Linked DNA regions of Homo sapiens. The protein of the gene in region 1 interacts with the protein of each later gene in a pairwise test. Each region holds a gene or a part of one and is shown on either strand. Other genes may lie near its edges.

What was found. Proteins that work in one complex are often made in the same cells at the same time.
Region 2: the proteins of PATZ1 (region 1) and CPSF7 interact in binary tests that used the Homo sapiens proteins (3 or more experiments, as listed by UniProt).

The regions. Positions count from the first base shown.
Region 1 is NC_000022.11:31,324,337-31,330,436, reverse strand, and holds the end of PATZ1 (POZ-, AT hook-, and zinc finger-containing protein 1 isoform long C), read left to right. Parts: intron 1-1,512; coding exon 1,513-1,650; intron 1,651-3,127; coding exon 3,128-3,546; 3' UTR 3,547-4,633; downstream 4,634-6,100. UniProt on the Homo sapiens protein: Transcriptional regulator that plays a role in many biological processes such as embryogenesis, senescence, T-cell development or neurogenesis. Interacts with the TP53 protein to control genes that are important in proliferation and in the DNA-damage response.
Region 2 is NC_000011.10:61,418,948-61,426,975, forward strand, and holds part of CPSF7 (cleavage and polyadenylation specificity factor subunit 7), read right to left. Parts: intron 2,692-8,028; exon of another isoform or gene 2,662-2,691; coding exon 2,443-2,661; intron 2,311-2,442; exon of another isoform or gene 2,245-2,310; intron 2,184-2,244; exon of another isoform or gene 2,110-2,183; coding exon of another isoform or gene 2,107-2,109; intron 1,627-2,106; coding exon 1,523-1,626; intron 1,148-1,522; coding exon 1,002-1,147; coding exon of another isoform or gene 975-1,001; intron 1-974.

The DNA of each region.
Region 1 (6,100 bases):
GCCTGCTACCACGCCCAGCTAATTTTTTATATTTTTAGTAGAGACGGGGTTTCACTGTGTTAGCCAGGATGGTCTCGATCTCCTGACCTCGTGATCTGCCCACCTCAGCCTCCCTAACCTCACAAAGCCTCTTATTTCTTTATCTGTAAAATGGGTATAATAGTAATCTGTAGCACAAAGGGTGTTGGGCAAATTCTATAGAATAGTGCATGCGGTGTGCTGGGCCCTGGTGTGCCATCAGCACTTCCTAAAGGTGAACCTTTATTACAGTTCCAGCAGCATTCAAAATACCATGCCAATTCAGACTTTTTTAAAACAAATCTCATGCAGACATTACACAGTACTCTTCAGCCTCTGACCCTTTACCCTTTAGCAGTGGATCTCACTGTTATCCTGTGACTGTGTAATTTTGAAAGTGAATGGAAACACCTGATGATGAGTCAACCAGATCTGAAGTGGATTAAAGGGACACTGTCAGGGTGCTGGCACCCTAAGTGGGCCTTATACTAAAAAGCTTCAGTTCCTGCTAAAAGCACCTTCTGATCCTTGACTACAGTGGGGTTTGATGGCATACCTCCTTCCTGTGAAACCCAAGTCAAAATCCTTTTATCGGCCTGCCTGATTCTGTATCCTTGGACGCATGGCTGCTGTGGAAGTTGGCCCAAGATGTGTTCTTCCCAGCCTGAGATATCTCGTGGATCAGACTGACCGAAGCATCTGGGAGGTGGGCTGGAACAGTCCCAAGAAGGCCGGATTGTCCTCCCCCAAAATAAAGACAGAGATCATCCGTGTTTCTTCTCCTGTACGCGAACCTGGTGGATGCTCCAAAATCGAACCAAAACACTACCATGAATAAGAGATGACTGCACTCCTCTGACACAACTTCCTATTTTTGTCTTTGTTCTTCAAAAGGTCTAAACAGTTACTAAATCCTGTTATGCTGAAGGTGGGGAAGTTAGAAAAATAGAACATCTCCTGACAGGTAGAAGACGGGATCCTTGGAGGCGTTCCTTTGGGATTTCATTTTACCTCCATCTCGTTTGTTGTCCAGTTTCCTTTTACGAGGATTAAGCAGGCATCCTGCTGGCTAGAATCCTGTGGCTTCCCTGGAGCCTCAAATTCTTGTCTAACCACATTTCTAGTCATGGTTCCTGCAGGAGACATCCACTCAAACCACCTGTTACTGAGGCACCAAGCAACCCTAGAGGCAGTTGGCCTCTGGCCCTAGCAGGAGCAGGATCTCAGGCCATCCCACCAGGCAGCCAGCCTCAGCCCCTCACCGCAGCCTTGCAGAGTGGGCTCTGCAGAGAAGCCGATTTGTGGACAGTGCCACCCTCCATCCTGAGTCACATGGCTCATGTGGTTGCAGCCATTTTTGAGCCAGGAGGGGGCCCCTTCTAGGTGCAGCTGACCTGGGAATGCTAGCCAGAGCGGCCAGAGGAGAGGAGTTGGGGGAAGGAGAGAGGTATCTCTTGCTGGCCGCGGGATCTCATCTCCTTTTGTCTTGTTTAGGTTTCTCCTCTGCCTCCTACTTAAAGGTCCATGTTAAAACCCACCACGGTGTTCCCCTTCCCCAGGTCTCCAGGCACCAGGAGCCCATCCTGAATGGGGGAGCAGCGTTCCACTGCGCCAGGACCTATGGCAACAAAGGCAAGCGACCCCTTGCTCTGCACTTTGCTTCTCTGCGCAGACTGTGTTGTGGGGGCGCTGGGCTGGGCGTGGGGAGGCGGGAAGGCTGCCGGCTTTCTGGCTGCCTTGAGGAGACTCAGAGATCTGAGTGGCAGTGGCCTCCAGGACAAAAGTCACAGTGGGTATCTCACTCCAGGGCAGTGAGTGAGGCTTTAGGGCACTGCCGAGATCCAGCCTCCGCCTCCTCTTCCCCAGCCCTCCTCCTTTCCTCCTGGCCAGCCCCCACTGTCTGGAGCCCTGCAGGGATGCCCCGGGCCCTGGGCAGAAGAAGAGCCCTGCATGATGAGTCACTATGGGCCTGTCACTGCCTGCTGCCCTTTAGGATGGTGTGGAGCTGCGGCTGAATGCTTTCTCCTCTTTTGACCCAGTGGGCCGGTGGGAGCCAATGTCTGGCTTCTCTCACAGTAGGAGTGGTTGGTTACTGTGAGTGGCCCTTTCTGGAGAGCCTCTGGCTATGGTTGTGAGATGCATGGCAATAATGAGCTATCTGACTCCTCTGACTTGGGAGTTGGTTTGCAGAAAGCTCCCCAGGCCCACCTTCACTTGTTGATTCAGGTTGTTTTGTGGTATGTCACGTTGTCGTTGCCTTGGGGATGAGGCCAGGGGCTTGGCAGATGGTAGAAACAGCAGAGATGGCATGCTCCATGCTCCCATCACAGACCTCCCTTCCCGGCATGGCTCTCTGGACCCAGGCAGGAAGCTGCTGATTGGTGGAGGACTCCAGTGTGGGCCGGGCAAGGCAGAGCAGCCAGGGTTGTCTCTTGGCCCAGCTTGTCTGGGGCCTAGGGTGGGGACACCCAGCCGACTGAGTAGTACAGAGTTGCTTTCAATCTCTGTGCTTGGGCTGCTTGGCCCTGAAAAGGTTTTGGCAGAAGGAAGGCGGTAAGGACAGGGCTATGTTTGCAGCATTAGGAAAAGGATTGGCTTCTGTCTGAGCCATTGATGGGGTCTACCCAGGTTGAGGACCTAATGGCTCTGGTTCTGCCTGTCTTGCTAGGGTGCAGCTAGTCTGGTGCAGGAGGCGAGGCTACTATTACACTGGCTCGGCATCATCAGAATACCAATTTTACCCTCAGAGGCACCCAAAAGAGCGCCTAGGAGTTGGGGGTCTTTGAGTTGTTCTGGGCAGCTGTAGCAGAGTTGCCCTCTCTGTATCCCTTCCTTGAAGCAGGCTGAGATGACGGTGAGCAGTACATGTGCAGCTGCATGAAGAGTCCACAGCAAGGGAGGCTGGCAGCCCTAGGGCCCTGCCGTTTCACCCCTGTAGGCACTCCAGGCTCCCAGACTGACCAGCTGACCCTCCGTGGGTTCTGCCAGGGCAGTGGCTGGCCAATGGCTGCCCTCCACAGGTCTGTGAGCTGGCCCCTCATGACCCCTCCAGGAGGGGGCATCTCCAGAGCCTGGCCTCATCGCTCTCCTATATTTTGTTTTTTCGTAGAAGGCCAGAAATGCTCACATCAGGATCCGATTGAGAGCTCTGACTCCTATGGTGACCTCTCAGATGCCAGCGACCTGAAGACGCCAGAGAAGCAGAGTGCCAATGGCTCTTTCTCCTGCGACATGGCAGTCCCCAAAAACAAAATGGAGTCTGATGGGGAGAAGAAGTACCCATGCCCTGAATGTGGGAGCTTCTTCCGCTCTAAGTCCTACTTGAACAAACACATCCAGAAGGTGCATGTCCGGGCTCTCGGGGGCCCCCTGGGGGACCTGGGCCCTGCCCTTGGCTCACCTTTCTCTCCTCAGCAGAACATGTCTCTCCTCGAGTCCTTTGGGTTTCAGATTGTTCAGTCGGCATTTGCGTCATCTTTAGTAGATCCTGAGGTTGACCAGCAGCCCATGGGGCCTGAAGGGAAATGAGGCAGCTGCTGTGTCCCCACGGAAACAACCATCTGGGGACTGCTGGGAAATGCTGTGAATGCGGAGGGAAGTGATGTTTGGGTTCTGTAGCTGAGAGATTTTTATTCATTTTTAACTGCCCCCCAACCCCACTCCAACTCCTTCTCCACCACCCATTCTCCCAATGGTCTTTAGAAATAGATTTTCATCTGATATTCTGCAGAAATATCAATGAGACTTGGTATGGGACAGGGGCAGAAAACACTACATAGGCCTCCAAGGCAAAACCAGTCCCAGTTTCTTTAATGGGAAGAAGCTGGAATTCCTGGTGCTCAATTCTTAGTGACCCCAATCCTATACCCAAATCTATGATATTCTGGGACCTCAGTGATTTTGGTCCCCTCCCACTTCTCTAGTTCGTCATCCTCCCTTCCCATATCCTTCAAAAGAACCACACTAGGGTCTCCACCTACTTATACAATGCGGATGCCCAACTGTTTTTAAGGAAGCCAGAAGCATCCCATGGACCATGGGGTGAGTGTCCTCCAAGAGCCCCCTGAGCTCAGCCCTCTGCCTGGAGGGCTCCAGACCTTTCTGAGCCCTGCTTGGAGGCGAGCATTTTCACTGCTAGGACAAGCTCAGCTGTTGAGGACACCCCCACCCCAAATTTCAGTTCTTACGTGATTTTAACCATTCAACATGCTGTTGGGTTTTAATTCTCTAATTATTATTATTATTGTTATTATTTTTTAGGACCAGTTGTAGTGAATTGCTACTGAAAGCTATCCCAGGTGATACAGAGCTCTTTGTAAACCGCAGTCACACATTAGGGTTAGTATTAAACTTTGTTTAGATGTACCATAATTAACTTGGCTAGTTGATTGTTTGAAGTCTATGGAAGAAATAGTTTTATGCAAAATTTTAAAAAATGCCAGTCTGGTCAGGGAAGTAGGGGGTTTCAATGCTGTTGGGAACCAGGAAGGTGGGACAGCCGGCAGGTAGGGACATTGTGTACCTCAGTTGTGTCACATGTGAGCAAGCCCAGGTTGACCTTGTGATGTGAATTGATCTGATCAGACTGTATTAAAAATGTTAGTACATTACTCTATCTGCTCCCTTGAGTCCAGTTTTTCAGCTGTGGGGGTCTTTGGGACCCAGAGGTGGGCAGTCCATACCCCAGCACCTGGGGTGGGAGTGGGATCCCAGGAGACCCCTTTTCCACTTCATTGCACCAGTTCCACTGGGATTGACAGGTAGATGGTCCCACTGAAGACTTAGAATGCCAGAATTCACCCATGTGTTCAACAAATATCCACTGCTTGTCTTCACTGCTTGTGTGCCAGGCATGGTTTCATGCTCTTGAGATATGGTGGTGAACAAGACACCACTGTGAGGCTTAATGGGATAGACAGACAACTTAAATATGAGTTCAGATAATGAGAAATACAAGGAGAAGAACTGGGCAAGGTGAGGGGACAGTGACAGCAGGAGGGTGAGTAGGGTGGACCAGGGAGGTGTGAAGTGGGGTTGGGGCTCTGGGAGGGAAGGCTTATAGAGGGGATCTGACACAGCCTACCCAGCTAGCACCTGAGGAGGGATGTGGGCAGGGACTCCTCATGGCCAAGGGGCTCTAAGAAGCTCAGCAACTTGTCTCCCCCACCATGTTATCTACCTGATGTTAAGTAAAAGGTTGGTGCACCGTTAATGGTGAATGTATGAAGAAAAGAGGGAAAGAACAACAAACAGGAGGCAAGAAGTAAGCACGATGGAGAATTAATAGGAATAAGAATGAGGAACAAGAAGGGACAGGCAGACTTAAGGCACCCTGGGCATCTTGAGAAATCTCAGGGAAGAGGGAAACCCCTAAAAGGATAGAGACAGCATTTAACCTCCAAGCAAGAAGAAAACAAAACAATGGTAAAGGAGAGAAAAACAGACCTAGGGGAACAAACAGCACAAAAATTTTTAGACCCACATTGGTATCAGAATTACATTATTTTTTGTTTTTTTGAGACGGAGTTTTGCTCTTGTTGCCCAGGCTGGAGTGCAGTGGTGTGATCTCGGCTCACTGCAACCTCCGCCTCCCAGGTCCAAGCAATTCTCCTGCCTCAGCCTCCTGAGTAACTGGAGTAACTGGGATTAAAGGCATGCACCACAATGCCTGGCTAATTTTTGTATTTTTAGTAGAGACGGGGTTTCACCACATTGGCCAGGCTGGTCTCGAACTCCTGACCTCAGGTGATCTGCCTGCCTGGGCCTCCCAAAGTGCTGGGATTACAGGCGTGAGCCACTGCACCCTGCCTAGAATTACATTGTTCTGGTGTAAAGGTAAAGACTCTCAGCTGAATTTTTTAAAAAACAATTCTAAGCCATTTACACAAAATCCTTGGTAAGCTGCTGGGCTTTGCAGACTGTGTGGAATAGAGGCTTAGGCCATTAGATGTGAGTATCAAAGGAAAGGGTGACCCTAGAATGTGGAGGCCCTGTGGACACGTAGCTTTGTGACCACCACAGAATCTGGTCACACCCACTGAGTGTTAAGAGAACCTGGCCTTGAACCAAGGACTTGACTGGG
Region 2 (8,028 bases), on another chromosome or scaffold:
ACCTCAGGTATCTGCCCGCCTCAGCCTTCCAAAGCACTGGGATTACAGGTGTGAGCCACCATGCCCAGCCCCTAACTTTTTTATTTTCCCTCCAAGATGGAGTCTTGCTCTGTTGCCCAGGCTGGAGTGCAGTGGTCTGATCTCAGCTCACAGCAACCTCCGTCTCCCGGGGTCAAGCAATTCTCCTGCCTCAGTCTCCCGTGTAGCTGGGATTACAGGCATGTGTCACCCACACCCGGCTAATTTTTGTATTCTTAGTAGAGATGGGGTTTCACCATGTTGGCCAGGCTGGTCTCAAACTCTTGACCTCGTGATCCACCCACCTCGGCCTCTCAAAGTGCTGGGATTATAGGCGTGAGCCACCGCGCCCGGCCTGTAACTTTCTTTACTAATGGGATATAACTGCCAAGCAGACTAAAACATTTGGTAATCAAAAGAGCACCCTCTCCCCTGGACAATGCTGGAGAAATATTGTTCAAGTCTTATTCTCCAACACTCCTCTTGGTTGATTCCTTACAGTATCCTTCCAATCAACGTTTATGAAAAGATTATAGGCACCTTTTAGTTACATTTTAGGGTGGCTGCTTCTTGATAATTTATAGAGAGGCATGTCTTAAAAATTAAGCCCATTCACCTAATGCCAAGTTTTAGACAGAAACACAGAATTTAGAGGTGATGGAACTTTAAACATCATGTCACTAGTCCAGATGGGGAAACAGGCCCTAAGTAGTAAAGTGACTTGGCCAAGGTCACACGAGTCAGTGGCAGAACCAAACTACAACCTGAACCTACTTGACTCCCAGCACAATGCTCTTTCTTCTATATAGACCTATTCTGAGGACTACTTGTCGACCATGACACCACTCACAACCACCATCACCCTCCCCCAAACTCACCCACACTGTAGGCTAAGCCTACACCATAGAAAACAAACCCACAAACACCCCCCCCTCATACAGATGGTCTCCACGTACCCCCTCTTGGGACTCGGACACACTCACGTTTCCGAGCCTGTGCCTCAAACTGTGACAGGTTCTGCCGGGTGGCCGGCCTCACGTCCACTTTTTCTCCATTAAGAACTTTCCCTGGTAGGAGTTCCAACAATTTGTGGACAGAGTTTTCAGAGGCTACCACCACCTCAGCATACCTTAGGAAAGAAAAATTAAAAATGAATGAAATCTGTAGACAGCCAAGAGAAGAAAAAAGAAATTCTCTTCCACTTTTAGTAAAAATTGATAAAGCAAAGGACATCTTGCTAAACTAAACACACATACAGCACTAACAACAAAGAGACAGCCTAAATCTTTATTTTTTTGGAATTAAAAATCAGTATTCTTCGCCCCTTAACAGATGGATATTCTACTACACTGCAGCTAGGTCCCTTTCTAAGGCAGTTTGCCAAAACCAAGGCAGTAAGCTGGGCCAGGGGTGGGAGTGATTAAAATCCAGGGCCAAAATATAGTACAGATCTTTTATCCCAATGGTTACAAATTAAAAGGGGCTTCTCAAATCCAGACCTCACCCTTTGGACTGGCCATTTGCTCGATTCTCTGCAAATTTCAACTCCACCACATCATAGACTCCTATAGAGCGAATAACCTGGATCAGCTGCTGGTCTGTGGTCCACTGGGGCCGGCAAGATGGAAAAGGAAGAGATGTCAAGAGCTACACCCCCGCCCGCCAATGTCCCAAACCCAGGATTCTAGTCACAACTAAGTCCCCCCAGAGGAAACTCAAAAGCCTGGCAATATTTCAATTAGTGCAGACTTTTCTTATTGTCCTCACCCATACAGAATTCCAAACCCACTCACCCCCAATCTCCATCTTTAGAGATTACGAAGATTAAAACTTATTGTAACTTTGACTGCCGTTTGGGCTGGCTGGTCATCAGTTCAAACATTGACAGCTAGCAATTTTTTAATTATAGATCTGTCAGGCTAGAGTTGACCATTGCCAGAACTTCCCCCACAGTAAATATACTTCCTAATTTGGAAAAACCACCCCCACCACCAGCCCCAAAACATCACAAAATAACTTGCAGAACAACAGTCACCACCTACCCCAAGTATACTAGAGTTATCAAGGTCTTTAATCCCCATCACCCACCATTATCACAGGACCATCTAATGACCACCAAGAGTTCAAGGTGTTCACTCTGAAATCTCGTCCCTCAGATGACCCTGCTAGACATAAAGCCCCAGGGTCAGGGGCAGTAACAAGATGGCAGAAAAAGCAACTACCCACTTAATCATTGCTTTCTTCGGCACCAGTACGTCCTCAGGATAGTTCTCTTTCAGAGATCAATCCAACCTGATCCCAGGAAAAAGAAATCCAACCCCATCAGAGCACAAAACAGTGCAACAGTAGTTTCTGAAAATGCCATCACCTCCCAGTGCTCTCCCTCCAGCCCACCCCTAAGCATTTTTGGTTACCCACACTCACCCAGGAGAAGCTGCCCACATAAACGGCAGCTCGTCTATTACGCAGGCCACTGTAGGTATACAGAATTGCAGGGGTCTTGTTGTTGGGCTTGGGAGATGGCTCCTGGCGAACAGGAGGAGGTGGTTCAGTGCTGCTGCTTCTGTCATCTGAGGGCTGTGAGGTGGCTGTCAGCACATCATCATACAGGTCAATCTGATCTGTATTGTTGAACTCTGGGTCCTAAGAGATGAGGGGTTGGCAAAGGTAGGTCTGCAAACTTCATTTTGTTCATTCTATTTCACTCTAGTTTATTAGAATCCAGTTAAATACTTGGTAAAACATGTACAAAACTTCCTTGTCCTACCCCAGGAAACAAAGTAAGAAAAACCTCCTTTTGAAACTGTATCACTTAATTATGCTTATGTACATTTTTTTCCCCTCAAGATTCTGTTAATAGTCTGTAAAGTTTCTGGCTTTAGCCAACGGCAAGAATCAAAAAGCACTGGGTGATTAAGCAAGCAAAGAAAGAATGCATAATGAGATGCATGGGCTGCTGTTATCAATAAGGTCAGCTTCTAAAGACCACATCTAAGATAAGCTAATGAAAACTTATTTTCAGTATCTTATGCTATTTCCAAAATCAAGTGTTACATAAAATTCACTTGTCTATTTAATAATAAATTTATTTAGAAACAGAATGCAGAGGAAAAGCATGAAAGTGGGTACAAAAATGCAGAAAAGATTGGGAGTTACTGATTTAAATCCCTTGATTGGTATAAATGATTTAGGAAAGCTCTAAACTCATTGTACACAATCCCATCTTTCCATCGGAGAAAATAAAAAATAAATAAAAGGGAAGGGAATAACAACAGGGGTTTTCCCCTACTAAGTTCTATTTCTTAAATGACATACAGGCCCAATGCATTACCATGACATGTATCTAGGAGACTTTTTTTTTTTTTTGAGACAGGGTCTCACTTTGTCACCCAGGCTGGAGGGCAGTGGTGCAATTACAACTCACTGCAGCTTCAACCTCCTGGGCTCATGTGATCCTCCCACTTCAGTCTCCCAAGTAACTGGGGACTACAGACATGCGCAACCATGCCCAGCTAATTTTCAAATTTTTTTTGTAGAGACAGGGTTTCACCATGTTGCCCAGGCTAGTCTGGAACTCCTGGACTCAAGTGATCCACTGGCCTCGGCCTCCCAAAGTGCCGGGATTACAGGGGTGACTACCATGCCCAGCCAATATTCAATGATATACAAAAAACAGTTAAAGTTCTCTAAAATATAAGGGCCAGAAAACAGGACAAGAACATAAACTGTATCACACAGTAAGCATTTACAATATGAATATGTATTATGGAAAATGTGCAAAATACATATTCTGCCTATGTGATATCTTACTTACTATATACCAAAACCCCTAAAACTACAACTACTACTACTACGATACAGGACCTTAATGTTTAGGATTTTACAGGCTGGGTGCAGTGGCTCACGCCTTGTATCCCAGCACTTTAGGACGCAGAGATAGGCAAACTGCTTGAGCCCAAGAGTTTCAGACCAGCCTGGGCAACATGGTGAAACCCTATCTCTACAATAAATACAAAAATTAGTTGGGCATGGTGGCACACATCTATAGTCCCAGCTACTCGAGAGGCAGAAGGATCACTCGAGCCCGGGAGGTTGAGGTTGCAGTGAGCCAGCCTGGGCAACAGAGTGAGACCCCATATCAAAAAAAAAAAAAAAAAAAAAAAAAGGGTTCAGGATTCTACAATGTAATTACCTCAGAGAAATCTTTTTTTTTTTTTTTTTTTTTGAGACACAGTCTTGCTCCATTGCCCAGGCTGGAGTGCAGTGGCGCCATCTCAGCTCACTGCAACCTCTGCCTCTTGGGTTCAAGTGATTCTCCTGCCTCAGCCTCCTGAGTAGCTGGGATTACAGGCACACACCACCATGCCCAGCTAATTTTTGTATTTTTAGTAGAGATGGGGTTTCACCATGTTGGTCAGGCTGGTCTCAAACCCTTCATCTCGTGATCTGCCCACCTCGGCCTCCCAAAGTGCTAGGATTACAGGCGTGAGCCACCGTGCCTAGCCTCAGAGAAATCTTTTTAAGGATTAGACAAGCATTTTATTTTTATTACAAGAATTAGACAAAACATTCAAACAATGCTAAAGATAATGCTGCCAAAATGACAGAGACAGCAAGTAGTTCAGTGTTTTAAGGATGCTACGGCAGTTTCATATTGCTATTCTTTTAAAAAGGGAATAAAGGAGGCACCTAAGTTGGGAAACTTGTCTAGTACCCTGAAGAAACAGTTTCTCCAAGGCAACTAAAGACAGGCGGCTCCCTTAACTTTCTCCCTCCAATATCACGGCAATAACTGCTAATTCTGAAGTGATCTGAAGACGACTCACTAAAAAATTTACTCTTAGACCAGTCCTTGTATTATAAGAACCTTTGGAAACAATCTTTCAGTTTTTCAGTTTATCTGAAGTACAGTGGAAGAAAATGCACACTAAGAGAATAATCTTGGGTTGTTCTGATAGAGAAGGGGGAAGGATTCTACTTCCTAAAGCATATAAATAATTTCAAATATTAAAACACTCTAAGAAACCCACCAGGAGGGCTTAACCCTTGTAAAAACGTTAGAAAAAGAATATCAAGAGACAGTAAACTTTTAGGGGGCAACTTAACAACAAGAAATTAGTGAGGCAAATAAGCACAGGAAGCTTGTTCCATGTAGTCAAATCCATCAAAAAGGATTGTGCATAAAAAGGGTCAGCATGTAAAGAATGAGGAGAGAAGCTAACACTGGAGAGGACAGGGTGGATAATAAAGTAAGGTGAGGTCAGCTAGGGCTAATGAGTGGGAAAACATTTTGTGTGTAAGTAATCACTATAAAATATTTCATAGCTGTTACGTCTCAAACTATCCCAACTCTATAGACAAATCACTCTTCTATTCATGTACCAGGTATGGTGAGTTGCTCCTGTGGTTCAAGGTAGAGAAAGGATTTATATACATCACTTGATCCCATCCAATGCTCAAATCCTTAGAAAGCACTACTTCACACCAAGATTCTTCTTTTTTTCTGAGATAGAGTCTCACTTTGTCACCCAGGTTGAAGTGCAGTGGCGCAATCTTGGCTCACTGCAACCTCCGCCTCCTGGGTTCAAGTGATTCTCCTGCCTCAGCCTCCCGAGCAGCTGGAATTACAGGTGTGCACCACCACACCCAGCTAATTTTTGTATTTTTAGTAGAGATGGGGTTTCACCATGTTGGCCAGGCTGGTCTCTAACTCCGGACCTCAGGTGATCCTCCCACCTCAGCCTCTCAAAGTGCTGGGATTACAGGCGTAAGCCACTGCACCCAGCCTTCTTTTTTTTTAAATCAAGGATTTTCAAATGACACGTAAACAGAATAAGGAAACACATCATCTTGGATAATCGAATGGAACCAAACTGAGATTCCCTTCCATGCAGTATCTGTAATTCAGGTATATGTGTCTAAAATTTGTAATGTAAAAATGATCACTGAAAATTGAGTAGTGGACTAACATGCAGATTTGGACAGCTCAGAGACCAAATGCATCACCAGGAAACCCTTCGTACTATATGCTTAGGCAACCAATCCACTGTTTTAAGATCCCTTAAGAATAGGATAGACTAGATCCTGGAGAATCTTGGTATGGCTACCACTTTTAGAAACAAAAGGATTGAATGAATACAAAATTATCACAAGATTTAAATGGTCTCTCTGGGCCACAGAGCCTCAGTTCAAAGAAGCTGGTGGGAACTGCACAGGGCAGGTCTGTTGAGGGTTCTACTGAAGAAACAAGGTATCAAATTGTTTGGATTTTAATCCCCCAGCATCACAATTCATTTTACTTGTTCAGCTAGTAAGACAGAAACACAGTTAAGGGCCGGAGATTTTTCTCAGCGGATTTATGCAGTAATAGATTAAAGTAAAATCAAATTCTACAAATTAAGTGAAAAGTACATTTTACATGCACTGATGTTCAAAGTTTCATTCCAGGGAGATTAAACATGAAACATATATTTAATACTGAATAACTATCTCAAAGAATTTTGTGTTTAATGGCACAGAAAGAACTGTGACTGTCTCATGAAACTTCCTGCTTCCCTGTAAACAAAAGAGAACATGTGTGATTTTCAATTTAAATAAGATCTTCTCCACTTGTCTGCTCAGTGTTCCTAACCTCCACCCTCTTCTTCCTCATATCCCACTGAGGGAAGTAACTAGCCTAGGATTTATTTTTCTCAGAGCAACCAACTTGATACCATTGTTTCTTTTAATTGTAACCAAGGCTTAATCAAAAATTTTGGCTTTATAATGACCATTTCCACAGTTCCCACTTCACACCCTCCTTGTCCTTCACTGTACATTGTCGTTGTCCACCACCCCTACCCACCAGGAGTGGAATCTGTTTTGAGTACAGGGACCCACTTTTTTTTCCTTTTACCTCACTAGTCCTGGCACAGTGCTTAGCAAACACAAGTAGCTCAATAAATAAATACTTATTGATGGACATAAGGAAGAGAACTGGACACTGTGCAAAGCCTGTCTCAGTATGAAAAGCCAAAACTCCCAGCAGAGCAACTGATCTCAGTCACCTTTCCAGAGTTCTCCCTGGCCCAAGAGAGCCAATGTGAATCCCAGGACTCCCTGTGTTACAGGAATAAAGTAGCTCTGGCAAAAACAGGCTTTTGCAGCAAATGCTCTAAGAGATCAGGGAATAAGCACCATAGGGTTCCATCTAGGAAAAATATTAATTTTCCTTGAGGAGCAAAGTGCACATGAAGGGCTTCCTGTGCATGGGCCAGCTTGGGGCGAAATCAGTAACATTCTTAAAACATTCTAAAACACAATTTGTACTGGGTGCCTTCAGACTAAGCCAGCTTCTAACAATTCTAGCCAAAGTTTTTTTGTTTTTTTGTTTTTTAAATAATTTCTGTAGCTTCCAGATGACACTAACACTAACTTTGTCAAAAATAACTAATTGATATGTGTGTGGGGGGGAAGCACTCATCCCTCACCTTCCACAAAACATAAGATATTCAAAATTCACACTTTCTTCAGCTTGCCTAGTGTCAAATATTGCCCGTTGGATATATGTATCTATTAAAGTCCACATACTACCTTTAGCCTGTCTTAGACCCATAAAAAAGTCCTTTTTAACTGAGGAGACCAGAGAACAAACTATTGAGGCCAATAACTTATACTCTAACAAAGCAGTGACCACTGGACAATGAGTTCTGCGTATTTCTCAAAGTGAAATGAATGGCACTATTATCAATCCACAGATAAGAAATTAGAAGGGGAAAAGCTTTTCATTAATAACAAAGGTGGCTGGGTACGGCGGCTCACGCCTGTAATCCCAGCACTTTGGGAGGCCGAGGTGGGCAGATCACAAGGTCAAGAGATTGAGACCATCCTGGCCAACATGGTGAAACCCCGTCTCTACTAAAAATACAAAAATTAGCTGGGCATGGCGGTGCGCGCGCCTGTAGTCCCATCTACTCAGGAGGCTGAGGCAGGAGAATCATTTGAACCTGGGAAAAGGAGGTTGCAGCGAGC